2 separate regions of the Homo sapiens genome follow, and region 1 is linked to region 2. A link means that fine-mapping ties the variant in region 2 to the expression of a gene that starts in the linked region. Tissue or cell type: whole blood. Region 2 holds a variant in brackets; the other region holds the start of a gene. All regions are shown on one strand. Distances are between the middles of the regions.

Evidence for each region. PIP is the estimated chance that this variant, and not a neighbour inherited with it, causes the effect.
Region 1: it holds the start of SLC43A2, and the variant in region 2 is fine-mapped to the expression of SLC43A2 in whole blood (TOPMed, PIP above 0.99).

Annotation. Positions count from the first base shown.
Region 1 is chr17:1,624,084-1,632,182 of GRCh38, reverse strand. It overlaps SLC43A2 (solute carrier family 43 member 2), which reads left to right and starts at 3,349. Exons shown (of 14, transcript NM_152346.3): 1 at 3,349-3,389; 2 at 4,263-4,468. The coding sequence starts at 4,309. RefSeq lists enhancers at 4,101-4,638, 4,639-5,176.
Region 2 is chr17:1,570,432-1,578,530 of GRCh38, reverse strand. It overlaps SLC43A2 (solute carrier family 43 member 2), which reads left to right. Exons shown (of 14, transcript NM_152346.3): 12 at 208-281; 13 at 1,811-1,934; 14 at 2,766-8,099. The coding sequence ends at 2,927. Among named protein-coding and RNA genes, the nearest start is that of PITPNA, 12 kb to the right of the region's middle. RefSeq lists enhancers at 1-578, 579-1,390, 1,391-2,202, 2,203-3,015, 6,271-7,106. The variant G/A (reference allele first, on the strand shown) is at 3,594.

The DNA of each region.
Region 1 (8,099 bases), 54 kb before region 2:
GACCTCAGGTGATCCACCCACCTCAGCCTCCCAAAGTGCTGGGATTCCAGGTGTGAGCCACCGCACCTGGCCATTTGCCCCTTTTCAGGAGTTCATGTTTTCATTCCACAAACTCATATTGTGCAACTGCTTTGTGCTTGCTTCTCTATCAAGGGCTGGTCATACAAAGTTGAATAAGACACCGTCCTGCCCCCAAAGAGTTCATAGTCAATTAGAGAGGAAGGCAAACAGACGAATAGCTAATTATAAAACAATGCCAGCAGTGGACAAATAAAGTGAACAGTATTAATGGGGAGTGGTTAGGGAAGGCTTCCCAGCGGAGGTGCCGTCCAAAATGAGGCTATGTCGCGAGCTAGAGGAGAGAGAACAGCAGGTGCAGAAACCACAGGCAATTCCATGTGACTGGAGCATCGGGGACCAGGCAGGTCAGATGTCCTTCAGAGGGAGGGAGAGGGAGGAGCCTGTGTGGGTCAAATTGGGGAACTGGAACTTTTAAATTTTGTTTATTTTTTTGAGACGGAGTCTCGCTTTGTTGCCCAGGCTGGAGTACAGTGGCACAATCTCTGCTCACCGCAACCTCTGCCTCCCCAGCTCAAGCAATTCTCCTGCCTCAGCCTCCCAGGTAGCTGGGATTACAGGCGTGTGCCACATCACCCAGATCTTTTTTTTTTTTTTTCTTTTCAGACAAAGTTTCGCTCTTGTTGCCCAGGCTGGAGTGCAGTGGCACGATCTCGGCTCACTTCAACTTCCGCCTCCCAGGTTCAAGTGATTCTCCTGCCTCAGCCTCCAGAGTAGCCGGGATTACAGGTGTGCGCCACCACACCCAGCTAATTTTTTGTTTCTTTAGTAGAGACAGGGTTTCACCATCTTGGCCAGACTGGTATCGTACTCCTGATCTTGTGATCTGCCCACCTCGGCCTCCCAAAGTGCTGGGATTACAGGCGTGAGCCACCGCGCCCAGCCATTTTTGTATTTTTAGTAGAGACAGGGTTTCACCATGTTGGCCAGGCTGGTCTTTAACTCCTGACCTCAAGTGATCTGCCCGCCTCAGCCTCCCGAAGTGCTGGTATTACAGGTGTGAGCCACCGTGCCCAGCCAGGAACTGGAACTTTATCCTGTTTTACAAATAATAGTTTCTGAAGGATTTTGGCAGAAGTCACATTTACATTTCCCTTAGTGCCCTGGGATGAGATGGGGGCTGGATTTGAGGAACTGAAATCTGAAGGTGGCTCAACAACAGTAGTTGCGGGCCTAAGGGCACAGATGGACCGATTAGGTAAATATGTAGGAGATACAGCTGTATCAGTTTGATGGGGATGCGGTGAGGGAGAGGCAGAATCACAGCGACTGCCTAACAAATGTCTGATGAAAGGATGGTTCTCAGCAGGGCACTGTGAGTCATGCCTGTAATCCCTGCACTTTGGGAGGCTGAGGTGGGAGGATCACTTGAGCCCAAGACTTCAAGACCAGCCTGGGCAACAGGGCAAGACCCTATCTGTACAAAAAATACAAAAATTAGCCAAGTGTGGTAGCATGCACCTGTGGTCCCAGCTACTTGGGAGGCTGAGGCAGGAGGATCACCTAAGCCCAGGAGGTCGAGGCTGCAGTGAGCTATGATCATGCCACCACACTCCAGCAGTCTGGGTGCCTGAGATCCTGTCTCAAAAAAAAAAAAAAAAAAAGAAAAAGAAAAAAGACAGGGTTCTTGGTATCTAACTTCAGTAGACAGTAGTAGTATGGTTATCTGAGAGAAAATGTGGAGGACAGTTCTGGGGGATATTTGAGGCATGTTTGAGCCCTGCAGCGCCGTCAGGCTGCTCAAAGAGGAGGGAAGGGTGAAGAAAGAGATTTTTCAGATGGCAGTTGAAACCTTGGGAGTGGGAAGGGTTCCACAGGGTGAGGAACCGGGTAGGCTACCAGCTGGAGCCGCCCCCCAGCAGGCTGACAGCTCCAAGCGTTGTCTGGGGGAGGTTGCCCTCGCCAGGTGGCCCGGGCGGATTCTAGACAGTAGGGGGCACACTCGGACTGGGGCAGGTGGAGCAAGAGGCGTTTGGGGCTCCCACAGCCCTGGGGTGGTGGTGGGGTTTTATTTTTGGTTTTTATTTTGGTAGAGATGGTTCTCGCCATGCTGCCCAGGCTGGTCTCAAACTCCTGTCCCCAAGTGGCCCTCCGACCTTAGCCTCCCAAACCGCTGGGATTCCAGACGTGGACACCGCGCGGCAGCCCTGGGGTGCTAAGCCAGCCCCCCGGAGCGAGCCAGGGTGACCAAGGCGATTCTGGGGCAGTCAGAGGGTCTTCCCGGGTCGGGTTAGTGCCTCGAATCCGGGGGACGAAGACGGGGAGCTGAGCTTTCGGAGCCCGGGCTTATCAGACGGGGACCCGGAGCCCCCTCGAACCCTCCCTAGCTTGTACCAGCTGGCGGACGTGGCCCGTAGCATCGCCCTGCAGAGGGGACCTTCCCTGAAAGGGACGGGGAACGGGGTGAAGGTGGCCAGCGCGGGCAGGGAGCACCCAGATGACGATCAAGGGTGGAGGGTCCCCGGAGGACCGAGCAGTGCGTGAACACGGGCGGAGAAAGGTCAGTCTGATGGGGGGAGCTCAGGAGACCCCATCCTAGGACGGGACAGACCAGCCCCAAATCCCCTTGCAGATTTCCAAGGGCCAACTTCCAGGGACCGGGCAGACGCCACCGGGGAGAGGGGAAGGGGTCGGTGCATCAGCGGGGGGCGCCACGGCTGGACCGGGTCCGGGATCCCAGGCCCCGAATACGCCGGGACGGGAACCACCGGGGCGGGGGAGCGAGGAACCAGGACCCAAAGCCCGAGGCGGCGGGGACGGCGGCGCTGCGTGGGGAGGAGGCGGGGTGGGGATTCGAGAGTGGAACCACCGTGCGGAGCCGGCGCATCTGGGCGTGGTGACCCGCGCGCAGGGGGCAGCTGGGGACGGCGGGGCGGCCGCGGGAGAGCCCGGCTGGGGGCGCTGGTGGCCCGGCGGCTTCTGGGGGGAGTCCGCTGGGGGCCGGGACGCGGAGCCGGAGCCCCAGCCTCGCAGGGTCAGGCCGCTGGAGAGGCCGCGGGGCGATGTCGCCGGGGATTCCCGGCCGCGCTGTGACTCGGGTTGAAGGCTGCAAAGCCGAGGCCCGGCCCGCAGCGCCCAGGCCCCTCCCGTCCCCCATCTCTCTTGTTTGTCTCCGAGTCCGGCCGGAACCGGCTTCTGCTCGCGGCGGGGCGGGCGGGGGGCTGGCTGCTGATTGGTCGACGCCTGTTTCCAGCCCCGCTCAGCCAATCAGCGGGCGGCAGTGTTTTCTTCTTGGGGTCGGAATAAAAGGGCTGGAATAAAAGAGGGCAGAAAAGGCGCCGGGCGGGCCCGACACACGCCGGAGGAGCCGGGTGAGCTGCAGCAGGGAGGGGATCGCGGCCGGGGCGAGGGCGCGGGGGCAGAAGCGGCCGCCGAAGGGGCGTAGGGAGAAAACGTGGGAACGAGGAGAGAGATGGAGCGATGAGGGGCCGCCAGGGAAGAGATGACGAACAGATGCGGGCTGGGGAATGGAGGCGCGGGGGTCCGAGGCCATGGAAACGGGCGAGTTGCCGGGGGAACGCCCGAGATGGGGGTCGCGCGGCTGGCTCGCGCCACCGGTTTGAACCGGCTCCTCGTCTCCCACGCTGGGTTCGCGTGGCCGCAGCGCCTAGCGACCTAGACGGCGGCCAATGGCGCGGCAGTTCCTGCGCCGTCCGGCCAATGAGCGCGCCGGGGCGGGCCGTTCCGTAGGTCTGGGCGCTGATCTTGTGGTTGAAGAAACCAGCTCTGGGGAAGGGTCTCGGGCGCGGGCGGGAGGGCACCTGTCAGGGTCCCTGGGAGAGGCAGCCCTCGGATCTGCCCCTGCCCACCTCACGCTGCGTTCCATGCTGGCCCCAGGCGATGTCAGTCCTGCTGCAGGCCAGGACTAGTTCCACGGCCCTGAGCATGCGTTAGCCCCTTCTTGCCTCCATGCCTCAGTTTACCTCGGAGTGAGCTGCGGGAGACGTCTCCCTGCCTGGCCGGGGCGGCTCTGTCGTAGCGGAGGGCAGCGGTACGAGCCGGCCGCGGGCTCGGGGTGTCCCAGGTCCGGGCAGGGCTGGGGTTCGCTTCCTCTGCTGCGCGCACCGGCCGCCGCGGCCGGGGAGGGGTGGCAATCCCGAGCCCTGCGGCAGCGGTCGGGGCTGCTGGGGGCGGCCGCAGGGGCTGGGCAAGGGCCGGCCGCTGACGCCGAGTTCTGTGCGCAGGTGGTGCAGAGCCGGAGCCGGAGCCGGAGCCGCGCCGCGCCGCACCATGGCGCCCACCCTGGCCACTGCCCATCGGCGCCGCTGGTGGATGGCCTGCACGGCCGTGCTGGAGAACCTCCTCTTCTCGGCAGTCCTCCTGGGCTGGGGCTCGCTGCTCATCATGCTCAAGTCAGAGGGCTTTTACTCCTACCTGTGTACCGAGCCAGGTGAGACAAGCGCCTGGGGTTGCGGGGGGCTCCTGGAGCTGGGGCTTTGGGAGGGGGCGGGATGGGGGCGAAGACCTAGCGAGCCACAGCACCGCATTGCCCAGTGCCTCTAGGGTATCAGAAGGCCCATCTGATCCTCACCCAGCCCTGCCGGGTACTTGTCATTGCCCCTGTTTTGTGGACGAAGACATCGAGGCTCAGAGCGATCTGTCTTGCGCAAGGCCGCAGAGCCTGGGCCTGCCATCCACCCAGAACCCCACCTGCTGTCCAGGGTGTTCCTTCCACCCGCTACGAACAGTGCTGGACTGCTCTCCTCTCCTCCCAGCCCTGGAACATAGCTTGGCTGGTAGTAAACATGTTGCTGTCTGCTTGTGAGAAAGAGGAACTCCAGATTAAGGGGCTGGGGTGCAGCAGGAGAGGAAGTGGCCTTGCCTCCACCCCAGGGAGGGCTCATCTAGAATCTAGACGTTCCTCAGGCCATTGTGGAGTCTCCTAAGTGCTTGCTGGACACAATTTCTTGTCTATTTTTGCTGCCTTATGATTCTCCAAAGGACATTTCCCCCACGGGCTCTGAGGACATCTCCGTGGCTTTCCAACCCCATGGGGATGAAGGGGAAGAGAAGAAAGGAACGTTTATGGAAATGATGCTAGGGTTGTTCTCTCCTCTTTGCCTTGTCACTGGAATTGCTGAAGGCAGGCTGAGGATGCTTCTCTACATGACATCTGCACCACCCAACACACACTTACCTTCACACCTTCATACCCTGTTGGAGGGTCCTGATGACTACAGGGCAGTAAATTCAGCCCCACAGGAGGGCCACAGCAGCCCCCAGCCTCTAGCCTCCTACCCTCCTTCTTAGGCAACCTTGACAGGAAATTTTCCCTCTGCCTTCTCCTTGATCCCAACGGTAGCTGCATAATAGCTGAGCTCACATAATCCCTGTCGCCAGTGCTAGAGTGCCCTTAGATGGAGGTAGCCCAGGTTTGACTTCCTGAATCCCCAGCAGCAGGCCTTTTCTTTCTAGAGCTCTTTGCAGGAAGAGAAAGCTTTGGACCAGCTCATGCTGGGTGTAATCCTTTGTGGAAGCCTCCCTGTTTCCCTTCTCTGATCTGCCCCGGAGATTCCTGTGTGTCCCAGTCTCTAGGGAGGGAGGCTTAGCTGGAGAGGTTCAGGGCAGGAGAAAGCAGGAGAATGCAGAGGCCGCGGGGAGAGGACAGAAAGTATATCATTTATAACTAACCTTTAGCCTTTAGCCACTCAAAAATATTTCCTAATAGCCTAAGGGTTCTTGGCAGGTCTTTCCCCACATCAGCAAGAAATCTTGGGAGTTGGGAAGAGTCAGACCTTGTTCCCTGAACAAGCTTTCTGCTTTGGCCAAGAGTTGTTAGGAGATTAATGCCTGTCCCCGAAAGGCACAGGTTGGAGTGTTTACTTCTTCCTCTCCTTTCCTCTCTCCCCCCTTAGAGATCGTGACCCTTCCTGCTTGCCTCCCTGGTGGGCTCTTTCAGGCTGGACACAGGGTTTAAAAAAAAAAAAAAAAAGCAGAAAAAAAGTCATCGTCCCCAGAGAAAGCTTTTAGTGTCTCACCCAGACCAGAGAACTGTTGTGGGCAGGTGTTTTTTTGTGTGTTTTTTTTTTAACCCACCATGATGTCGGAAGGTCAGATTCTAGGTGTTTTTTGTTTGTTTTTTGTTTTTTGTTTTTTTTTAATAGAATGTCCACGGATTTAATTGATTGTATGGTTTTGGCAGAATTGGGTCTGGTCCTTTCATTCCTGCCTCAACCTCAGCTTCCTCCTCTGTCTAAGTGGGAGGAGTCCCAGAGATTGTGCCAGCGCAGTGCTGAGTTGGTGTTTTAAGCCCTGGGCAGACTTGACAGGTAACTCCACTAAACCAAAGTGAAGGTGAAGGGTCAGGATTGTGGGTTGAACATCAACTTCTTATCCCGAACTTTTGCTCCTGCCTCCAATTTTGGTTTTTCTTATTATCTGGCAAACATGCTGAGCCCACGTTCTGGGCGGGAAGGCTGCTGATTCCACACAGCTTATCTCTCTGGTCACACTGCTCCTTGATTCTTGGAGTCTGCATCACCAGTTTTCTTTCAGGCCAGAAATCCCCGCATTTGGCTCGTCTGGGAGTGCCTGGCGAAGTTAGGGTGAAGGTTTCTGCTTCAGTCTAACATTTTCAAACTTGGTGCATGGCTGAATTGCAGAGAAGCAGATAGGCCATTTTTGAATTTATTGAATTAGACTTGTGAAAGCCTGAGCAGTGTCCGGCTGATTGAGATGCAAATTTGTCAGCTTCGTGTCACTCTAGGACGATGCTTTAGTTTGTTCTCTAAAGAAAATTTGCCTGAACCTGTTGAAAGGTTCTTAGAACTCTTTCTTACGACTCCAGCCAGAATCTCGCCACAGACACCGTGTTGGGTTCCAGCCTGGTGAGGTGGCAGAAGGAAGGAAACAGCTCATTTCTCGGCTGCCCCGCAGTTTGTTCTTCCTTGCCTGCTGGGAGACGTGGCAGGCTGGGTTTGGGGACCTGGGTGCGGGAAGTTGGCAATGGGTTTTGCACAACGTCCTCCAGGTGTTGGCTGCTGGATGCCTCCCTCGTCCCCCTGGTGAGGGCAGGAGACCAGTTGGGTTCTCAGCCCGAGAAGCACGGGGCTTCCTGGAGCTGTGTCCTCTTGGCCTCTGGGATGGCAACGTGACGGCCCACTCCTGAGCTCTTTCTTCGTTTTCTCTGTTGTCCAGTGGCCCCCGCTTCAACAGGGTCAGGGTCAGCCTGGGGGGCTGCGGCTACCTGTGGATGGTTTTTTTTTATTTGAGACAGGGTCTCGCTCTGTTGCCCAGTCTGGAATGTAGTGTTGCAATCACAGCTCACTGCGGCCTTGACTCCTGGGCTCAAGCAATCCTCCCGCCTCAGCCTCCCGAGTAGCAGTAGCTGGGACTACAAGTGTGCGCCACCATACTCAGCTAATTTTTGTATTTTTTGTAGAGACAGGGTCTCGCCATGTTGCCTAGGCTGGTCTCAAACTCCTGGGCTCAAGCGATCCTCCTGCCTCAGCCTTCCAAAGTGCTGGGCCTGCAAGCATGAGCCATCAAACCCAGTTAGTTTTTTGTTTTTGTTTTTGGGATTACAGGTGCCCACCACCACGCCCGGCTAATTTTTGTATTTTTTAGTAGAGATGTGGTTTTACCATGTTGGCCTGGCTGGTCTCGAACTCCTGACCTCAGGTGATCCACCCGCCTTGGCCTCCCAAAGCACTGGGATTACAGGTGTGAGCCACCACGCCCGGTCAAATTTTTTGTAGAGATGAGGGTTTCATCACGTTGCTCAGGCTGGTCTCAAAACTCCTGGGCTCAAGTGATCCACCAGCCTCAGCCTCCCAAAGTGCTGGGACTACAGGTGTAAGCCACCATACCCAGTTAATTTTTAAATGTTTTGTAGAGATAGGGGTTTCACCATGTTGCCCAGGCTGGTCTTGAACTCCTGGGCTCAGTCGATCCACCCACCTCGGGCTCCCACATTGCTGGGATTATAGGCGTGAGCCACCGCTCCAGGCCTACATGTGGATCGTTAATCCCCTCTTTCTTGTAACCTAAACATTCAGTAAACATTGACGAAGGTGCCGTGC
Region 2 (8,099 bases):
CAAAACAAACAAACAAACAAAAAATGACTGTGTTAACGACTGGCTTGCAAAATTTCTGAAAATTCACAATTGGCTCCGGAGGATGGGGTTGATCCAACTCCAGGCTGACACTGCCCCTGGGGTGAGGGCCCCCAGGAATTGGAGGGCGGGGGCTGAGGGGACGGTCCCTTAAGGCCTTATGCCCACAGTCGCCTTTTCCTCCCCCAGATCCTCTCCTTCATCCTGCACACAATCGTGCGAGGATTCATCCACTCCGCTGTCGGGGGCCTGTACGCTGCCGTGTAAGTCCTGGAAGCCGCAGGTGGCCTGGTGGGCGAGGGTGTGGGAATGGCCGGGGGGAGGTTGCTGGTGGGACTGAGACTCTGAGGCAGGGTCAGCCTGTCCCAGAAGGGCTCATCTTCCTGCTTCAGGGGACAGGTACCAGGGTTTCTGCTGGGTGTTTCAGGGAAAGGCCATACCTCGTGGGAAGCAGGTCAGTGGGCAGACAGTTGGGTGCTCACAAGCCTTGGCATTCAACACGAAGTCAGTTCCCCCAGCCAGGGTCAGGCACCTGTGCAGCTCATTATGGCCTCAGGGGCCACTACAGCCGAGTCCTGGGGCTGGCCCTGGCTGCTCACTGGGAAGGATGGGTAGGTTCTGGCTGCCTGAAGCTAAATGCGGAAGTTCCAGTTGCCCTCATCACGGGCAGCAACATGGGTGACTGAGTCCAGAATACACCAGACGGGCCCATCCAGAGCCTCAGTGCGCCCAGCTCTGGCCATAGCTTTCTCCAGCCCTGGCTAAAATGAAACCTGTATCTTTTTCCAAGAAGCCCCAGAAACATAAAAGGAACCACAGTGGTTCCTTCTTCTCTGGCTCAGGCCTTGACCCAAAAACTGAAACTCAAACATCATCATCCACAGTCTCTGATGTGGGACCAGCTCATGTGTTGCTGGGATTCCTTTCCCACCTCTGGGCCAGCAGAGCCTGACATGTGCTAAGATTTAGCCCGGAACTCTCTCCCAATTCCCGCAACAGCCCCTGGGGTAATCCCAGCTCCGCTTGCCCTCCGCCTGCCCCTCCCCAGGCCTGGAGGAAGCTGTGGCTGTCCTGGCAGGGTCTGAGGGAGGGGGGCGGGATCTGTGGTGCTGAGTTTCCGCGATTACTCAATGCTTCTCTGGACGAGGGCACTGCAGAGCCAAGCCCAGCCTCCACACTCCTCTCTGGGCCTGTTTCCCAAACCGCAGGTCCCCGCTGGCACCACGCTTTCCACTCGGCTCAGCCAGACACCCACAGGCCCTGGGCACAGCTGAGTGGGGTGGGCCCTCCCCAGAGTCTGGGGCCTGGAGCTGGTCCAAAGAGAAACACTTTGCAGAACCACCCAGCAGGGCCGGGCGCGGTGGCTCACGCCTGTAATCCCAGAACTTTGGGAGGCCGAGGCAGGCAGATCACAAGGTCAGGAGTTTGAGACCAGCCTGGCCAACGTAGTGAAACCCCGTCTCTACTAAAAATACAAAAAATTAGCCAGATGTGGTGGCGGGCGCCTGTAATCCCAGCTACTAGGGAGGCTGAGGCAGGAGAATTGTTTGGACTGGGGAGGCGGAGGTTGCAGTGAGCCGAGATCGTGTCATTGCACTCCAGCCCAGGCGACAGTGCAAGACTCCATCTTAAAAAAAAAAAAAAAAAAACAGAACTGCCCAGCAGGAAGGAATCCGAGGGCTGGCACCCCACCCTTCTCTGGCACCAACGGTGCAGCCCGGGGTCACCAGACACCTGGGGCCAAGCAAAGCCCAGGAGGCAGGATGGCTGTGAGCTGTCGCTTGCCCTGCAGGTACCCCTCCACCCAGTTCGGCAGCCTCACGGGACTGCAGTCTCTGATCAGCGCGCTCTTCGCCCTTCTGCAGCAGCCGCTGTTTCTGGCCATGATGGGTCCTCTCCAGGGAGACCCTCTGTGGGTAAGAGGGGTCGGGGGATGGTGGGTCATGGGCGCCTGCCCCCTTCTGCTAACTGCGAGCTGCAAGGTCCCCCTCGGGGGCTTCAGGGCCCCGAGGACATGTGGGAGCGTTGGTTAGGATTGGTTAAGAGTCCCTTTGTGAATGGTGGCTAGGCAGGAAAAGGAACATGTCCTCTCTGGACCTGATTTGGGGAGAAATAGAACAGAGTTCCTGGGCCGGGCGCGGTGGCTCACACCTGTAATCCCAGCACTTTGAGAGGCCGAGGCGGGAGCATCACTTGAGGTCAGGAGTTCAAGACCAGCCTGGCCAACATGGTGAAACCAGGTCTCTACTAAAAATACAAAAATTAGCCAGGTGTGGTGGCAGGTGCCTGTAATCCCAGATACTCGGGAGGCTGAGACAGGAGAATCACTTGAACCCGGGAGGCGGAGATTGCAGTGAGCTGAGATTGCGCCACTGCACTCCAGCCTGAATGACGACAGCGCGAGACTTCGTCTCAAAAAAAAAAAAAAAAAAAAAAAAAGAACACAGTTCCTGTCCCCGCCCCACCTCCGAGGGCCAGATTTCCTCACCAGGTACCAGGAACTTGTTCCAAGCCCAGAGGTTCAGATCAGCCCGTGTTTCCTGGGGGCCCAGGCCCTGAGGGTGGCCACATGGCCTGTGAAGAGTTGGGAACCGGGACGCTGGCATATGGGACCTCGTGGGCCTTCCTGTTTCGTTCCCCCTTCCACCCCGTGACCTTCTCCCCTTTCCCAAACCCGAGTGGAGGGCGGGTCTGCAGCCTCGGCGCACCACCACGCCCTGTGATGCGCGGCCTCCCTGCCTCCCCAGGTGAACGTGGGGCTGCTCCTTCTCAGCCTGCTGGGCTTCTGCCTCCCGCTCTACCTGATCTGCTACCGGCGCCAGCTGGAGCGGCAGCTGCAGCAGAGGCAGGAGGATGACAAACTCTTCCTCAAAATCAACGGCTCGTCCAACCAGGAGGCCTTCGTGTAGTGGCTGCCGCCTCGGAACTGCGGTCTCCTGCCTGTGCTTCAGTGACTGACCCCTGTCCTGCCCCTCCAGAGTACCCCACGCACCCCCAGGACCTTCGCCGTCTCCGTGCCAGCGTTCACGCTCCCTCCCGGGGCCCTGCCTCGGAGCTCTGTGGTGGAAGGACGGGAGAGGGCCCCGGACACGCGCGTTTTCTCCTGCCGAACGCAGGGGCTGCCCTGACTTTGCTCTGCCGCCCCCCGGGGACCCGGGGCCTGGGGTCTCTGTGGTGCCTGCAGCAGGAGCCAGGAACGCCCGGCAGGCAGGCGCTCTCCCGCCAGTGTCTGGATTCTGCCTCTTGCCAAAGCAGAGGGGGCTGCCATCCCCTGCCTGCCACCTGCCCCTCGGCTGCATGCCCACAGCCGTACCTGCCTGAGGACAAAGGCTTGCACTGTCTCGCCCGCGCCTGGCCCCCACCCCCTCCCCGGCCAGCCTGAGGCTGCCTGAGGAAGGAAGGACCCGCTTCCTGTTGTCGGTGCTAATTCCTTTGTAATTCCAGCCCCCTGTCGCCTGTCCAGGGCCTGCCCACCCGTTGGAGGCCGGTGGAGAAGCCCCACCTGGCTTATGCCCTGGAGAGGGTTTAGCGGGCTGGGTGGACCCCTCGCCTCCTCCCCGAGGGCCAATGCCGCG[G/A]ACACGTTTTCACTGTCACCCTCGTTCTGTCTGCCACCTGAAGGGAATTTGAGGACCGCCGCCAGGGCACCCCGTACATACACACAGCTGCTTTTGTGGAGGTGGACGAAAGGCTGTGGCCGGCAGACGTGGAGGTCCAGGCCGGGGTGGGGACGTGGGTGGGTCCGAGGTGTGTGTGGGGTCGGGGTGGGCTCTAGGAGTTAGCCCTTATCCCCACTGACCAGGCGGGAGCCGCCAGGCCTGCAGCTGGGCCAGTGCCCAGGAGCCATCCTGGCGTGGGGCCAGGAGCTTGTCCAAGGCCACAGGCCCACAGCACCCCCTGCCGGCGGGCTCCGTGGGGCCCTGGAGCTGATGACGGGGGAGGCCCGTCCGCCTGGCCCACCAACCCGCCCACCTTGACTGCCCCCAGAAGTGTGTCTTGAGACCTCCTGGGCGTGCTTAGAGGGGTGAGTTGTGTTTGGATTTTTAGTTATTTTCTCTTCAGTTTTATTAGACTTCTTTTTTATAAAGCAATAAATCCATTTTCCTCCGGGTAAGGGATGCCCCTTCTGGCATATCAGTTAATAGCTGCATGTGCCTATTTTGAGCTTGAGAAGAAAAGGCAGGACAAGATTCTCTGCCACCGACCAGCTCCAGCCGTGCCCAGCTGCTCTTCGTCTCTCTGGGGGACTGCTGACTCGGGAGGGACAGTGGGCCAGGAAAAGACCTTCCTCCCCAACCCCCAAACAAACTGGGCTTGTGCAGACATCTTAGAAGTGTGAGCCACCCTCCTCTACCGATTTTCCCAGCCAAACAGGCGAATCCTGGTCCCTTTCCATCCCTACACCCTTCCACAACCCTGAAGATTCCCGCTGGGTTCTTCTGCAGGCTCAGAGCAGTTCAGGATGTGGGCGGCAGGGAGGGGGATGAAAGGAGAAGAGGAAAGGGCAGGTCCAGGCCACATTCAAGCTCCACATTAACAGCTTGGGCGCCTGGAACACATATCTCCTAGGCTTTATTTCACTCAAATATTTAAAAAAAGACTGGGCGTGGTGGCTCACGCCTATAATCCCAGCACTTTGGGAGGCCAAGGCAGGAGGCTCACCTGAGGTCAGGAGTTCGAGACCATCCTGACCAACATGGAGAAACCCCGTCTGTACTAAAAATAAACATTAATCGGGCGTGGTGGCGTGCGCCTGTAATCCCAACTACTCGGGAGCCTGAGGCAGGAGAATCGCTTGAACCGGGGAGACGGAGATTGCCGTGAGTCGAGATCGCACCATTGCACTCCAGCCTGGGCAACAGAGCGAGGCTCCGTCTCAAAAAGAAAAAAAAAAAGAGAACGAGATAAACATGCCCACTCCTGAGAACACTCGTTTTGTGATGTTAGTGGTTATTCTGATTTTCAAGAAAGTATTATAGTCAAGTTTGGGAAAGGCTGAGTTAAAAGTCAAGCCTGTTTCCTTACAGCCAGCACTGACAGCACTTTGCCAACGCTCATGAGCTCCGTGGCTCCTCAGGAGCGGGTGTGCTGTGCTGCCGAGGAACGGCTCGAACCATCAGAGCCACCAGCCTCCACGTGCGGCTCCATGATCACCCCCAGCAGAGGCTCCCGGGTGCTGGTTCCAAATGGAGACTCCAGGTCTTGCCGCTGACCGGTGACTCTGCTGCCAGCATTTGAGACCCGCCATCACACAGGAGTTGCAGATTCGGAGAAACCCTAACTAGCCAGGGTGCTGCCAGCTGGGAAAAGGCCGCCTTTTTTTTTTTTTTTTTTTTTTTGAGTTGGGGTCTTGCTCTGCCATCCAGGCTGGAGTGCAGTGGTGCAACTGATAGCTCACCACGGCCTCCAACTCATGGGCTCAAGGGATCCTCCCACCTCGGCCTCCTAAGTATCTGGGACTATAAGTGTGTGCCACCATGCCTGGCTAATTTTTTTTTTCTTTTTCATAAAGATGAATTCTTGCTATTTTGCCCAGGCTGGTCTGGAACTCCTGGGCTGAAGCAATTCTCCCACCTCAGCCTCCCAAAGTGCTGAGATTACAGGCGTGAGTCACAATGCCTAGCCAAAAAGCCAGTCTTGAGATGGGGAAGACGTGGCCCGTGCTGTCCCCAGCAGTGCCCAGTCCCAGCCAAAGTGGGCAGTGCTGCCTCACTCTCCCACCCACCCTCAGGGTGTGGCACTTACTGGGAAGAAGCAGGCATTGAGAAACAGAATTGAGGGGGGGAAACAGTCCAGGGCCAACAGTGCTTGGGGATTGAGGCCTGAAAATGCGAGCAGGGTACAGAGGCTGTGGCTGGCCAGATGGGTCGGGTGCCCCCTGCACTCCCACCCCCTAGTCAGGGGTCACCCATCCTACTTTGCCTTGTGTGGAGCTGACAGGTGACATGTTTTCCTATTGTTGTCCTTGACTTGATAACAATCTGGGAGTTAAACACATATGATCATCCCTGCTTTACAACTGAAAAACGAGGCCTAGAGATACTATCATCATATACACCTGAAAAACGAGGCCTGGAGCGATGGAGGAGCTTGTTCAAGGTCAGAGCCAGCACTCATATATGGGTCTTAAGACACTGGAGCAGCCAAGGGCCTCTAGACCAGGACATTCCACTCGGAGCAGCAGCTCAGGGGCCACCAGGCCTCTGTGGCAGGGGGACCTCTGTGGCAGGGGGGACCTCTGTGGCGGGGGGGGGGCCTCTGTGGCAGGGGGGTCACAGCCCAAGGAAGGGGAGCAGGCCCAGGCATGGTTTCCGTTTCTGGGAGCCAAGAGCCTTCTCAGAAGAGGGGGAGAGAGCTACTGCATGGAATCATTTGGGCCCTGGAGGCTGATGGGTACTTGGGGGAGCAATCCCTGGTGACCCCAACCAGCAAGACAAGTGCCCTGTGAAGGGGAAGGGACTACAGCTGATCAAAGGAGCAGGCACCAGTGGCCGGGCCTCCCGTCTGCCCCTCATCCTCCAGGCTCTGGCGGGAAGGAGCAGGAAGGGCTCCCTGCCCTTGGGGTTTTGATCAGTGAGGAGGGGGGCTTGGGTCTGAGTCTGGGTCTGGGTCTGCTGCCGAAACACTGCCCCCAGTCCCTCTCCTCACTAGACTCTGGGGTCTAGGCGTGTCTTTGTGGTCGGCCTTCTCCAAACCCTCTAGGCCTCTGTCTGCAGCTGCTGCTGCCTGGACCTATACACAAGGTCCCACCCCTCACCGGGGCCAAAGACGTGGTTGCAGGCCCTGGTGGATCCTTTCTGTTTTGCTCCATCCCCGTCCCCTCTTGCACCCAGCATCGTCCTGGTCAGAACTTCCGTTTAAACCTTCCTTGCCTGCCGTGCACTCCGAGGGGGGCGTCACTTTGCCATAGGCCCCAGGGCTGAAAATGGCGGGACATCCAGTATTGGGCTCACGTGCATAAGACTGTCCCAGACAGCAGCACAATCACGTTCAGCCAAGTGGAGTTTCCGACGCACTTGTGTGGCAGCCGCGTGAATGTGAGCCGATATGCAGCTGGGAGGGGTTGTGGGCCTCCTGCGGTGAGGGGCTCCTGCCAGGAGCTCTGAGAAGCCTCCACAGAATCAGCCGTCGGGCTCCTTCAGCAGCAGCTCCCCTTATCTGTGCCAACGACTGGGGGCCTAACTCAAGGGTGCCAGCCCGTCTTCCGCCAATACAGACTGTGGGATTCTGAGAGTTAGGAGCCTGGGGTCCCCTGGGGTGGGGTGGTCAGGGTGAGCAGGTGGGCTCTGTGAGCCTGTTTCCCCATGCCCTGACTCACCCCAATCCCTGGGTGAGGACAGAGCTCCTGAAGGCCACTGAAGGAGGTGCAGCACACTCCACCTGGGTGGCCTTCCGCAGCTCAGCCCTCTTCCTGCCAGCAGGAAGCCTCTGCCTGTGCTCCTTAAGTTAGCCATCCTCACCCCCTCCGGGCAGCTCTGAGACTGAGCCAGGGCCACTAGCAGCACCCAGACCTCGACCCTTCTCAGACCGAGGCGCCACCACCCCAGGCCGAGGAGGCAAGGAGGGAAGACCAAAGTCTAGAGGACTGTCTTGGTGGCCCTGGGCGAGTCTTGAACTTTGGTGCCATCATCTGCAAAAGGGAGGAAAGAATGCCTGCGTGGTGCAGCTACGTGGATACGCAGTGAAGACCCGCATGGTGGGACGCCTGGCACTTAACAATGGTAGCATTTGGCCGGGCGCGGTGGCTCACGCCTGTAATCCCAGCACTTTGGGAGGCCGAGGCGGGCGGATCACGAGGTCAGGAGATCAAGACCATCCCGGCTAAAACGGTGAAACCCCGTCTCTACTAAAAATACAAAAAATTAGCCGGGCGTAGTGGCGGGCGCCTGTAGTCCCAGCTACTTGGGAGGCTGAGGCAGGAGAATGGTGTGAACCCGGGAGGCGGAGCTTGCAGTGAGCCGAGATCCCGCCACTGCACTCCAGCCTGGGCGACAGAGCGAGACTCCGTCTCAAAAAAAAAAAAAAAAACAATGGTAGCATCGTTTTCAGTGCCCAGGAAGAAGGCAGCTGGGACAGGGAAAGGG